Regions from separate parts of the Homo sapiens genome. Here regions 1, 3 and 4 are each reported to be linked to region 2. Evidence: microRNA targets listed by miRTarBase, many of them from high-throughput screens and not tested one by one. Region 2 holds a microRNA gene; each other region holds the end of a gene's coding sequence.

Evidence for each region. Region 2 holds the annotated microRNA hsa-miR-641 (AAAGACAUAGGAUAGAGUCACCUC, at 1,211-1,234, shown strand). A microRNA usually pairs through its seed, bases 2 to 8, with sites in the 3' UTR of a target mRNA and lowers its output. Matches are read on the target gene's strand: a 7mer-m8 pairs with bases 2 to 8, a 7mer-A1 pairs with bases 2 to 7 and ends in A, and an 8mer does both.
Region 1: the mRNA of SETD7 is a reported target of hsa-miR-641. Seed matches in the 3' UTR shown: 7mer-m8 at 422-428 and 7mer-m8 at 227-233.
Region 3: miRTarBase lists MAPK10 as a target of hsa-miR-641. Seed matches in the 3' UTR shown: 8mer at 2,195-2,202 and 7mer-A1 at 1,303-1,309.
Region 4: the mRNA of PSD4 is a reported target of hsa-miR-641. The part of its 3' UTR that is shown has no 7-base or 8-base seed match.

The regions. Positions count from the first base shown.
Region 1 is chr4:139,508,838-139,511,893 of GRCh38, forward strand. SETD7 (SET domain containing 7, histone lysine methyltransferase) reads right to left here. Exons shown (of 8, transcript NM_030648.4): 8 at 1-3,006. The coding sequence ends at 2,826. Among named protein-coding and RNA genes, the nearest start is that of SETD7, 46 kb to the right of the region's middle.
Region 2 is chr19:40,280,781-40,283,836 of GRCh38, reverse strand. MIR641 (microRNA 641) reads left to right here and starts at 1,196; the gene lies at 1,196-1,294. All of the region lies in intron 1 of AKT2 (AKT serine/threonine kinase 2), which reads left to right.
Region 3 is chr4:86,014,389-86,017,444 of GRCh38, forward strand. It overlaps MAPK10 (mitogen-activated protein kinase 10), which reads right to left. Exons shown (of 14, transcript NM_138982.4): 14 at 1-2,982. The coding sequence ends at 2,840. Among named protein-coding and RNA genes, the nearest start is that of MAPK10-AS1, 100 kb to the right of the region's middle.
Region 4 is chr2:113,201,140-113,204,139 of GRCh38, reverse strand. It overlaps PSD4 (pleckstrin and Sec7 domain containing 4), which reads right to left. Exons shown (of 17, transcript NM_012455.3): 17 at 1-2,982. The coding sequence ends at 2,725. Among named protein-coding and RNA genes, the nearest start is that of PSD4, 29 kb to the right of the region's middle. RefSeq lists an enhancer at 206-255.

The DNA.
Region 1 (3,056 bases), not on the chromosome of region 2:
TTCCGTCCTCAGCTGTTAATTCCTTATAGAACCTCCACTCCCTTGACTTCTTTCCCTACCTACAGAACTCAGTGAATCTCAAGCCTTACTCCGATTCCAACCTGCCACAGAGCCTTACATTTGGGAGTATGTGTGTGTGTGAGGGGAGGGGTGGGGAAGACAGAGCCAGAGACATAAGCAAACAGAGAGGCACACACAGAGGAAAAGCCAGATGAGCAGAGTCCCAAAGACATGCACAGAGCCAGAGAGACTCAAGAAAGGTCAGTGCAGGGGACTTGGAACAGGGAACAGGAGAGGGCAGCTGGGGCTGCTGTTACCCAGGATGCCCAGGCGTTCTCACATATGCAGAGAGAAGAGGAAAGAGAGCCGGCCAGAGAAAGAAGAGCTGGAAGACACAGAGAGTATGAAGAGAGTTGGGAGGAAGACATGGTGAGGCTCAGCGTGGATGCATTGCTTCCTCTGATTTGCGTGGAGGTCACAGACACACTGCTGAGTTTTAAGCTCAGAGTGTTACCATTCAATATCTCATCTGAAGAACTGATTAGCAGACTAATCACTACTTACAACTCTTCAATTCCTTCTATCCAATGTTGAAAAAAATTCCATTTGAATGGGATAATTAGAGTAGCCCCCACTTAGGACGTAAATTGTACCCCACTGCAGCCAGGACCAGAATGCTATCACTCTCAGGAATGAAATCATTCAGAGCATAGCTGCATCGGGGGCATGACCAGCACTATCCTCTCCCTGACCGTATTCCCTGACCTGGCTGCACAACCCACTTGATCGAGGTTAATGCAAGCCATCTTTCTCCTGAAGACAGTCACTCCCTTTGGGCACATTTAAATTAAAGCACCTATCAGAATGCAAGTCCAGAGGCCCTGGCCCATCCGTCACAGTGTATAGAACGGTCTCTTTCTACAGAGTAAGAGTGACCCTATCCTGGTGCCTTTAAATCTAAAAACTATTCAGTTCCTTTGGTGGGCAATCTTCCTGGAAGCACTGACAACTTCCTCTCATGGGTGAACCATTGGCTTAAGCTTTCAAGCAGGGATCCAACTGGATCTCCCTGAAACCACTGCCACCTAGCTGCAAAGCATGCAACCGGGTGCTCTAGGAAGCCTGGTGTTGCAAAGAAGGGAAGGGCAACTCTGTCAATGTGCCCAAGGGCCACCTGAAATGAAAGTCATGAGCAGCCTGGGATTAAGCACTTTTGTTGTAGTCTTCATAAAGCAATGTGCAACTGACAAGAAATAGCAAACTTCCTTCTGCCTATGTCCTCACTCTTCTTCCACTGAAGCCTTCTCTCATCAGCTGGAGCTCACTATCTGCTACAGCTTGGAAGGCCTTCGCTTTCCAGACCAAACTGACTCAGGTGACAGGAATCACAGCTGACAGCTACAGATCAGCACAACAGCTGCTCTCCAGTCCTTCCAGCCGCTGCATCGAGGTGTCTAAAAGAGACAAAGCTATGGCATGTGGTGAGGGTGCTTATAAAAAACAAAACTCTCAGGATTCATTCAGAGCAATCCCAGTGATGTTACAGATCTAATTAGCTAAACTAAAAAAACAGGGGTTTTCTCCTTATTTCTGCAGTTGTGATTACACATGGCTGGCAAAATGGCTGAAATGCTATTGATAGTGTTGCTTTTAAACTATACAGGTGTTCAGTCTTAGTTTACAATGTTTTGAAGCAGGTAAGTGCTTTGAAATTACAATGATGAAGAGTTTTAGCATCAAGGTTTGATTTGTACCTAGTAATCAGTGTGTCTGCCTTAGTAGTACTGACTAAAAAAATTTTTTTTTGAATTCTGTTAGAATTCAAATTTGCTGTTTGACTTTTGAATTCAATGCACTGTGCCACAAGCCTGACCGCGCTATGTTATGTACATTTAATGTGTACTCAAGGAGGAAAAAATTACTAGCACTACTGAAAATATTGCAAAATTGCCATAGTTACCGCTTAGAGATACTAGTTTTCTTCTCTTCTTTCTTAAAGTATATATTACAACTCTTCCATAACTTAATGCAAACAAAGTAAATTCATTTCTTCTCACATCTTAAAGCAAAGATATCTTTGTTTACATGCGAGAATAATATTCTATAATAATACCCTGGCCCTATGAGCCAGTACTTTATATTAGGACATAATAATAAAATGATGATATAGAAAGAACCAGAGAGACCTACACACTGCTATTGATGCAAAAATCCATTTGGAAGTTTTCTCTTGTAAAGGGTATCTAAGAAAGAGAATAGGGCTGAGGGGTGAAATGACTTTAGAAGTGGGCTCCTATTTACTAAGAAAAAAACCAAAGCCATTCTATTGCAAGATACAGATCAAAGGTTAAAAGGCAAATTATACTACATTTAGAGAATAAAGATGTAGTAATTGTCAACCCTTAATACGGCACATATGCAAGTGTGCTAACACAATTTGCACTGGCCATAGGAAAAAAGCACTATGGAAAAACCACTGACTAAAAATGACTGAAAAACCCCGTTTCCCTGTTTCAGTCTAATCATTTGGCATCTCCGAATGTGGTACAGATTTAGACTTGAACCACCAAAGAACATCACGCTGTCTTATGTCAAATGCTCGACAATACCTCTCAGTAGGACGTTGTTGCAAGGCTAGCTAATTTTAAATCTGGTATGAGTAATACAGTCAAACCTAGTTAGTATGCGAGAAAGTCGTTGCTAACGCATGGTGAGAGGATGTGACGTCACAGCATGAGCAGTCCCTGGTTGTCCCATTGTCAGATAAACGTAGTGCATAGATCCAAGTTTCTATTCCAGGTCTCTGAACCCCAAAGCCAGGCCTTTCACTTTTGCTGGGTGGCCTGGAAGGCCTTCAGCTCCACCTGGTACCACTCAGGGGCTTCAGGCCCACTCTTCCCGGGGGGGCTGTGGTCATAGCCATAGGCAACGGTGAGCTCTTCATCGGCCTCCACTGCTCTCAGGGTGCGGATGCATTTGATGGGCCCAAAACGGGGGTGGACAAACCTAAACATCAAGATGCACACAGTCATTCCCGGGCCAGACCAGGAGGTTGG
Region 2 (3,056 bases):
CCTCTTTGCATAGGCCAAGGGGACTTGGAGTGGGGGTGCCCCTGGCCCAGCCTGGCCCAGGGAGGAAGGCTGCTCTGAAGGGCTTGGGACAGTCAGATCCCCCATGGATCTGGTGTCTTATTGTGGTCTGTGGGCTGGTGCTGGGAGCAGCCAGCCCCAGAGGTCTGTGGCCAGTGTCCCTGCTCCCTAGGCCAGATCATGACCTTGGCTTGCCCTGTAGCCTTTGCTCTGGGTCTGGAGTTCCCAGAGGACTGGCTGCAGTCCCTGATTGACCCAGCAGACCTGGGCTGGTGATGTGGTCAGAGGGGGCAGATGGTTGCCCCTAGTCCGCAGCAGTGACTTCCAAGCTGACTGGCTTCCGTGGCTCGTGGTTCCTGGAGAGAAAGGTCCCACAGTCTGTGAGGCAGCGGCGACTCTGTAGAATCTTTCTCCACTAGGGGTTTGTTCCTCTGGTCCTCTCCTGCCAGCTTTTAGAGGGTTTGCCTGATGGGGCTAACAGTGGCAGTGAAAACAGTAATCATGAAATTGATGGCTGACAGTAACTGAGTGCATTCTGTGGGCCACACACTGTTTGGAATGCTTCATATAGATAAACTTGCTGAATACTTGAATTCTAGAGCGGTAGGCGCTGTTGTTATGCTCTCCCTTTTAGATGAGAAAACAGCATCTCAGAGAGGCAGATCATTTCCAGAGCTAGTGGATGCCCAGTGTTTATAGCATTCACCCCATGCCAGGCGTGTGACAGGGCTTTTGTACATGTGATCTCACTTAAGTCTCAAAACATACCTGTGGTTAGGCCTATTTTATGGAGAGCTACGAGCTAGTTAGAAGTGTGATACCATTTTACAGATGAGGAATCATTTCACTCACTGTGAAGTGCAAAGATTTCCCAGAGGTCTCATAGCTGAAGTGGGAGAGGTGTGATGTGAGCCCTTGGCCAACCTTGGCCTCAGATCGTCTTGTCAAGGAGAAACTGGAGGAGTGGCTTTTGTCTGTGAGCATATACTCTGCCCAGCCCTGTGCTTTGGGCTTTATATGGTATTTGTGTCCTTTTTTGCAGAGTCCGAAATTGAAGTTCAGAGGAAGAATTGCCTTCCACCGCATCTTATCAGACCCTATGGGTGCCAGGGTAGGATTTGAACCCAGGTCACTGAGCCCCTAGTGCCATGCATTCCTTGCTCACCAGGTTCCAGGCTGGGTGAAAGGAAGGAAAGACATAGGATAGAGTCACCTCTGTCCTCTGTCCTCTACCTATAGAGGTGACTGTCCTATGTCTTTCCTTCCTCTTACCCCTGAGCCTCAGGCTGCCCTGAGCATCTCTGCCTACAGCCAGTCCAGCATTTCTTGGTCCCTCCTCAGAGTGGAGGCAAGGCATCCTTTAACCCTGGGCAGGTGTGTGCTGGGAGAAGAAGACAGCAAGAGAGCCATGCAGGGGGTGACACAGCTACCAGGGACCTGCGTTAGCTAGCAGCAGGACGGTGAAGTCGGTTCTAGCTCTGCGACCTTGGACCACACTGTTCACTCCCATACAGTGGTCTCAGAAGGACGTCCACCTTGGGCTGTTGTGAGGATTAAATGAATTAATCCACGAGAAGCTCCTAGAATGGTGCCTGGTACTGTGTAAGTCTTGGTTGGCAGTCATGATTATGTTATGGAACGGAGGCATCCAGCCTCCCCCACCCCCTACTTTTGGTCCCCTCGAGCATTCCGGGATCCAGCTCCCCAGCCTGGCCCAGCTAGGATCCAGAACTTCAATGTTCTGGTTTCCAGCCTCTGTAAAGAGGTGTATGGAAGCGAGTGAGAGCACAGGGTTCAAATCCAGCCGTGCCACTCCATGGCTGTGTGACCTTGAGCAGGCTCCCCAACCCTTGTGAGCTCATTTCATCATCGGTGCCATGGGGATGATGATAATTCCCACCTGATAGGATTATTGTGAAGGCTGAGTGGATTAATTTGTGGGAAGCATTCATAACTGTTCTGGCATACAATAAGCCTACCGGAAATGTCTCCTCACTAAGAACAGTGCCCGACACATGGTGAGCTGTTGGTCTGTCTTAGCAATTGTAATTCTTAGTATTTCTGCCGGGACTTTGAAGGCCTTTGCCAGTTCACAGAACCGTGTCAGAGAGCACTAGGAGGAGATCAGGGCTGAAATTAGCATCTCAGTTTTACAGATGCAGAAACAGAGGTCGGGGGAGACATGCAATCAAGTCAGAACTGACAAGGGCAGCTCCCGGGCCCACTCCTCTTCCACGCAGTGGCTTTGCAGCCCTGAGCGCCTCCAAGGTAGACACACTGGAGTCTTTTCAGAGGTCAGGCTCTGTGCTTGTTTTTTTTTTTCTTTTGAGACAGGGCCTCCCTCTGTCACCCAGGCTGGAGTGCAGTGGTGTGATCACAGCTCACTGCAGGCTTGACCTCCTAGGCTTTAGTGATCCTTCCACCTCATCCTCTTGAGTAGCTGGGACTACAGGTGCATGCCACCATGCCTAGCTAATTTTTAAATTTTTTGTGGAAACGGGAGTCTCGCTATGTTGCTCAGGCTAGTCTTGAACTCCTGGGCTCAAGTGATCCTCCTGCCTCAGTCTCCTGAGTAGCTGGGACCGTAGGTGCATGCCACTGCCCCTGGTTCCCAGCCCACCACAGCTCACAGCTCTGGGAGTGGCAGGAAGGCTGGGCCTGGGCAGGGGGAGCAGCAGAAGTGCCTGCAGGGGTTGGCAGGGGCTGTGCTGCACTGGCCTGTGGGCCTGGGTGAGAGGTGAGGATGGATCCTAAGGGTATTGTGGAGCCGAGGAAAAGGTTTCACTCATCCGCCACCATTTACTGAACACCTCGTATGTGCCAGCGTTGCATCAGTACTGGGAATACAGCAGTGTACTTGCCAAAGTCCCTATCCTTGTGGGGCTAAGCAAGACCAACCCGAAACAGGTTAATAAGCAAGGAGCCGGTTAGAGGGGGAGGAGCTAGGCAGCGAATTCAAATCAGGTGACAGACTGGGCACTTCTTTAGATGCATGCGGCTGTGGGGAGGGCCTCTGAGCTGATCCCAGTTTGGCAAGG
Region 3 (3,056 bases), not on the chromosome of region 2:
TTGATAATATCATCACCTCCTAGACATATTATAGGAAAGCAGACCTAGTGGGCAAAGGACTGGGGGGCTTTTACAGTGGTGATTCTCTTTGTTGTTCCATCATCTGCCTTGCTTTAATCACCTAATAAAACTGATCCTGCAAAAATTCTGGGGGCCAAATCCTTACCTCTATTTGTAAATGATACTTATATTCAAGGAATTTGTTCCATTTTTCTCTTGTCCATAAGGGAAATCTGGCTAAAGCTAACCAGCTCCCAAGAGCCATGCACAGAAGATGTAAGACTAATTGAGCTTTGGGAAGGTACTAACAGCGGGGGAGGGGCCCTGTCTAGTTCTTGCCTGGTTTACTCTGAGGGGGAAATTCACCACTTATGCAGGTACGAGAGATAGCCTGTCAAGCACTTTGAAGATGCTGGCTGGAGACTTCCTTCTGTCTTGTGATGTCATCTTGCGGCTGATGAAATTCCCCTTGAGACTCTCTTTAAAGCAGCTTCCTGCTCTCCGCACTTAATCCCATGTGGTATAAAGTAAGGGAGGGGAGAAGCCACAGATATATCAAGAGAAAAGTACCGAGAAAGAAAATCAGTAAAGAATTAGAGATACAGAGAGGAGAAGTTTTTAAAAAAAAAAAAAAAAAACAGGAATATGAAAGAGAGGGAGCTCAAGTGACTGAGGAGGCATTTTTAACAATCAGGTTATCTGCAATATTAACCAGAAAAAAAATGGTAGCAAAATAGAGAAAATGGGCCATTTTTATTCCAGGGGACAAGCTGCACAAAGGAATGTTCTTCTATTTATTTTAAACAAATGACTGCGTGTACTGAATCTGACTGTGTGAAATAATCTCAGAATGGCAGCACCACTGGCATGGCGATGGTGCAGGTGGGTGCAGTTCCCTGTGGTCTCTATTGCTTGAAGAGAGAAAGAAAGTTCCCTATTATTATATTTAAGGCAGTTTTCAGAGCACTGGCATTCTTGTTTGCTCTGTTTTGGGGATATTCTATTTGCCAATCAGTTCACACTCATCAACCATCCACTTCCTGTCTTTCACTTCTTCAGGTGAAATATCACCACTCTAGTGAGCACCAACATGGTCAGAGTGCAAATAACTGTGATGGATACTTCGAAGTGAATAAGAAGGGAAGCCTGATTATTGCTGAGATCACCTTGGTATTGCCTTGTACATAACCAAGATGTTTCACAGTGCCTCCTTAAGTGCTCAGGAAAGCACTTTCATTTAATTTAATTTAAGCTAAATTCTGGAGATTTTGCTAAACATTGACATTAATGCTTCATGGCTTTTAAGACAAACTCATATTGCTAAAACTATTTGGCAGCAGTAAATTTATGGGCAGAGTTATTGCTCTTACATCTACTGCAGTACAAAACTCAGATGATCAGCCCTTCGATTGCTCATACTTATTAAAATAAATAAATAAACATGAAACATCAGCCACATTAAGGAGTCAGGGAAACTCCTGAGGAATAACAATGTCTCTGGAGATGTTTTCAAATGCTAACCTGAGACTCACACTGTGGTTTGGGGGTTTCATTATTATTATTATTATTTTATTTCAGAAGAGGAAAGTAATATTATTTCTCAAAATAAAACTTTGGCAGAGTATGAATCAGGGAAGCAGCCCACACATGGAAAACACAATCCACAATCTGAAAGTAGTCTAGGCAGGCTCATTTTTTTGTTGAAGGAATTCACATGGAGGCAATTCTGCTCAGTTCCAGAGAGAGATTCTTATCATCAAAAGCACACACAATAACCTTGCTTCACCACCTGCCACTTTCTCCAGTGGCCTCTTGTTGTGACCAGTAATTGAGAAATGACAAATGGGTATAGAGCCAAATCTCTAAAACAGGGACACCAGTGTCTCCTAGTATCTGGGTAATAACCTCCTTTCAGTCTTAGTCCACACCACACACTACCCTCCAGTCTCTCCTACTCTTTACTGTCACAGAAAAGACTCTCAGCTTTTATTCACACCTGCCTTCAGAAGGCCAAACCATTTTGTGCCTGAAAACTGTTACCCACTCGCCCCACACTTTACATAAGTATCACATATGTTCTTTCTACAAATTGGTATACAGGTGCCATTTAATCCATTCAAATTTGGAAGCTACATCTTCAAGGGTCTGAGAGAGCTCACTCCCCCCATATATTCCCCCTTTACATGTTTTCTTATAAGACATACAGTTTAATCAATTAACAAACTAAACAGCTTATATACTGGCAATATATTACAGATGGGTTTATGTCAGAGTAATAGATCACATGAAATGGACCATGTGGTACCCCAGTGCATTATGTCTTGGTAGAGCCCTGAGGACACTGACAGTAGCATCTCTAAGTAAGTAGTGCTGTATGAATACAGACACATGCGGATCTGTATCTACATCCATCTGACTAGGCCAAGGAGCAGGTAGATGCAAGATAGAGACACACACATGCTGGATGGGGCCACTGCACACCTTGTCATGCCATTTAAAAGGGCAGTTACAGGTTGCCGGTTTTGCAGCCATTAAAATTACACTTTATGGAAAAGGCTTCTCTAATTGTGTCTGATTTGCTTTCTGTAGTAAGCATCATTGGAAGAAGACCAAAGCAAGAGCAACTAGAAGTTAAATATACATTTGAGCTTAGCTGCAATACAGAACCCTGGGGAAGAAGCAGGCTGAAAGATTTATTTAATTTTAGGCTTGGATTCTCTCCCTTGCTGTTTTCTTGATGTTGTGTGTCTGCATTTGTGTGTGTGTGTGTGTCTGCGTGTGTGTGTGTTCCATCACATCATCTCCTGAAGAACGCTGGGTTTCGCAGGCAGGCGGCTAGTCACCTGCAACAACCCAGGGGTCCTGCCGAGGCTTCCAGGCTGCTGTCAGTGTCAGATGCCAGGGTCTGGTCGGTGGACATGGAGGAGATGTCATTGACAGACGAGGATGGAGGGAGACTCTCACTGCTGTTCACTGCTGCACCTGTGCTAAGAAAATGAAGACCAACATGACTCAATCTAGAACCAGACCCATCTTAATGCCATTCAGGATTCAGG
Region 4 (3,000 bases), not on the chromosome of region 2:
CAGGACACCTGAGCAGCCAGAAGCTAGAAAGATGCAAGCCTGCCTCCAAGTGGTCACATGTCATAACTGCAGCCCACAACCCAGACCCTCCAGGCAGAGGTGCCTGGGCAGCATTGACTATGGCAGGCCAGGCAGCCACCATCATCTGGCTCTGAAGATTCCACGTGCTCAGGTGAAAGAGAGGTGCCGGTTCTACATGAGCAAAGGAGCATCAAAGTGTCACACACACATGCATTCAGACTTTCACCTTTTATCATGGTTTTAGAAATAAGGATGCATAGGCCAGGTGTGGTGGTTCACGCCTGTAATCCCAGCACTTTGGGGGGCCGAGGCAGGCAGACTACCTGAGGTCAGGAGTTCGAGACCAGCCTAGCCAACATGACGAAACCCCATCTCTACTAAAAATACAAAAAATAGCCGGGCGTGGTGGCACACGCCTGTAATCCTAGCTACTTGGGAGGCTGAGGCAGGAGAATCGCTTGATTCAGTGGAGGTTGCAGTCAGCCAAGATCACACCATTGCACTCCAGCCTGGGTTACAAGAGCGAAACTCCGTCTCCAAAAAAAAAAAAAAAAAAAAAAAAAAAAAAGGATGCATGTTCAGTGAGGTCAAATAACCTACTCCACTTAGTTTGTAAGCATCAGTCTTGGGCCAAAAGTCATGTCCACTTGATGCTGGGATTCCACTTCAATCAAATGAGGCAATTGGACTCTACTGCAGCTAACTGCTACTTACACATCAGAATTACCCAAGGAGCTTTAAACATATTTATCTATCCCTCTGACCCAGGCTGACTGAATCAGCATCCCTGGGTGTGGGCTGGGAATGTGTCTTTTCAGCACACTTCCCCAGCAAGATAAAAGTGCCTCTGTAAACTGAGAGCAGGAAACCAGTGGGCAAGATTGTCAACTCATGGAGTCAGGGACATGTTTAATTCATTTGTGAATCCCCTGGTACTGGCACATAGAAAGCGTCCCATATTATCTGCAAAATGAATGAATGAATAAATGAGCAAGTAGGTGAATGAATGATTCTGAGGTCTCCTCCAGCTTTGATGGCCTATGACCGTGTGACTCCTGCATATGCATGAACACACAGACACAGACACTACACACATGCACAGACACACATACACACTTGGAGCAAAGAGGGATGAAGCCTGCCACACTGCAGGTGGTCCTAGCTGCCTGACCTCCCTTCCTCACACACTGACACACCTCCCTCTTTGTTGACCTGTTATTTATTGTGCACCCATTGGGTGCATGGCCTAGCCCTAGGCCCTGGCCGGAGACCCAAACATGGCCTCCAAGGGCCAACCTTACTTTGTGGAGGTGCAAGCCCCAGAGCTGGTTACAAGCATGGGAAGGGAGGAGGGTGGCCTAGCAGGAAGGCTGGGGAGGCAGTGTGTCAGCCGGCAGGCAGCAGCGGGTAGCAGAGGCCCCCTCTTGGCGGGCAGCCTACTTGCACACTTGGCTGAACAGAGACAATGGTGGCTGGTCCCTCCGGCCCAGCCTCCTTCCTACAGGCAGAGCCCCAAGTCCATGAGTCTCCGGAACCTCCCTCAGAGAACAAGCCCAGCTGGGAGGCAGCCAGAGGGCAGGATGAGGGGATTTCCCAGGGGAGAGCAGCAGAGACCCTCTGAGCTGCCAGAGATGGGGAAGGGGTCCAGGCACCCCACAGGAAGGAAGGTTTAAGGCATGTGTAGAAAGGAGCACAGAAAAGTCTCCCGAGCCTGGCCTAGGCCTCGCCTGGTCGCCAGCCTCCGTCCCATCCCTCACAACTCTCCTGAGCTGTGGCTCCTGCCAGGCAGACCCCTAAGGGAAACTGTCGCCACCTTTTACCTCTCTATCCTCTCCAGTGGTCTGAACATAGAGAACCTCCTTCTCTGCTCTGTTGGAACAAAGGCTCCTTGTTCCTAGGGTTCCAGGGTTCCCTGCAAAGCTCTGGAGGCCCCACCCCGCCCAGCCCTCACTCATGCCATCAGCTCTGCTCTGTTGATGAGCAGTTGGGTATGTGAGACTGTTTCATCTACTTCGGGGGAAAGGAGACACAAGGAGACAAAGGCACAGGGCCCCACAGCCGTGCAGAGCCCTTGAAGCCCCCCGAGGTCCCTGCCCAGAAGGCTGTCCCCTCAGTGGGCAGGACCTTAGCGACCCTGCTCCCTGGGTCACAGGAGGCTGGTTAGGAATTTCTCAAGAGTCCCTGATTCACTCTCCTGGGGCCTCCCCAGGAAGGTCACCTAATTCCCAGAGCAAGACCATCCTTGGGGCTGTGGCTCCCCTGGCTGGGCTGCCCAGGGGCCTCTGCTGCCCCAAGCTCTCCCCCAGAAGCCAAGGGCACACCACATAAGCACTGGTTCTCAAACAAGTGCTGAGTTCTCAGCAAGTCTAGGAAATGAGGCCACTCTGGATTCTGGGGCCTGGAGGGTGACATGGGCTGAGCTCTGGGAGGAAAGTCAAGTCCTCACCTCCCTCTTCCCTTGGGCGTGGCCAGGGACTGGGGCTGCGGAGGGACTGCCATGGGGGTGGTGGGGAGCACAGCAATATTAGGAAAGCTTCAGGGAGCACAAGAATGAGGGCCACAGGGAAACAAGGTTTGTCCTTCAGCAGGGAAAGGAGGTGCCTCATCCGTCATGGTGGACTCATTGAAATAAGTCTCCTCCAGGGAGGTTCATCTCAGGTCTACCCTGGAGCAGGGAACAGTGTCTCTGAGGTGGTGCTGGCTTCACAGCTGATTGCGGTTCCGCTTAGGGATGATCTTCCGGTAGGTTCTGCGCTCTGAGATGTTGCGCTTCACCTTGGCCGTGGTGGGAGCCTCATCCTGGTGCAGGGACGGGCTCGAGTGGGACTTCTTCAGGCTGAGCTTGGGCTCCCGAGTGCCTCCAGCTTCCCTCCCCAGCTGCTCCTCCCACAGGTCCAGAGCATCAGAGGGGCAGTGCAGGCGGGCCACCAGCAGCTGCACGTAGGTCTCGTAGCGGGTTTTCTGCAACACACAGGCCCC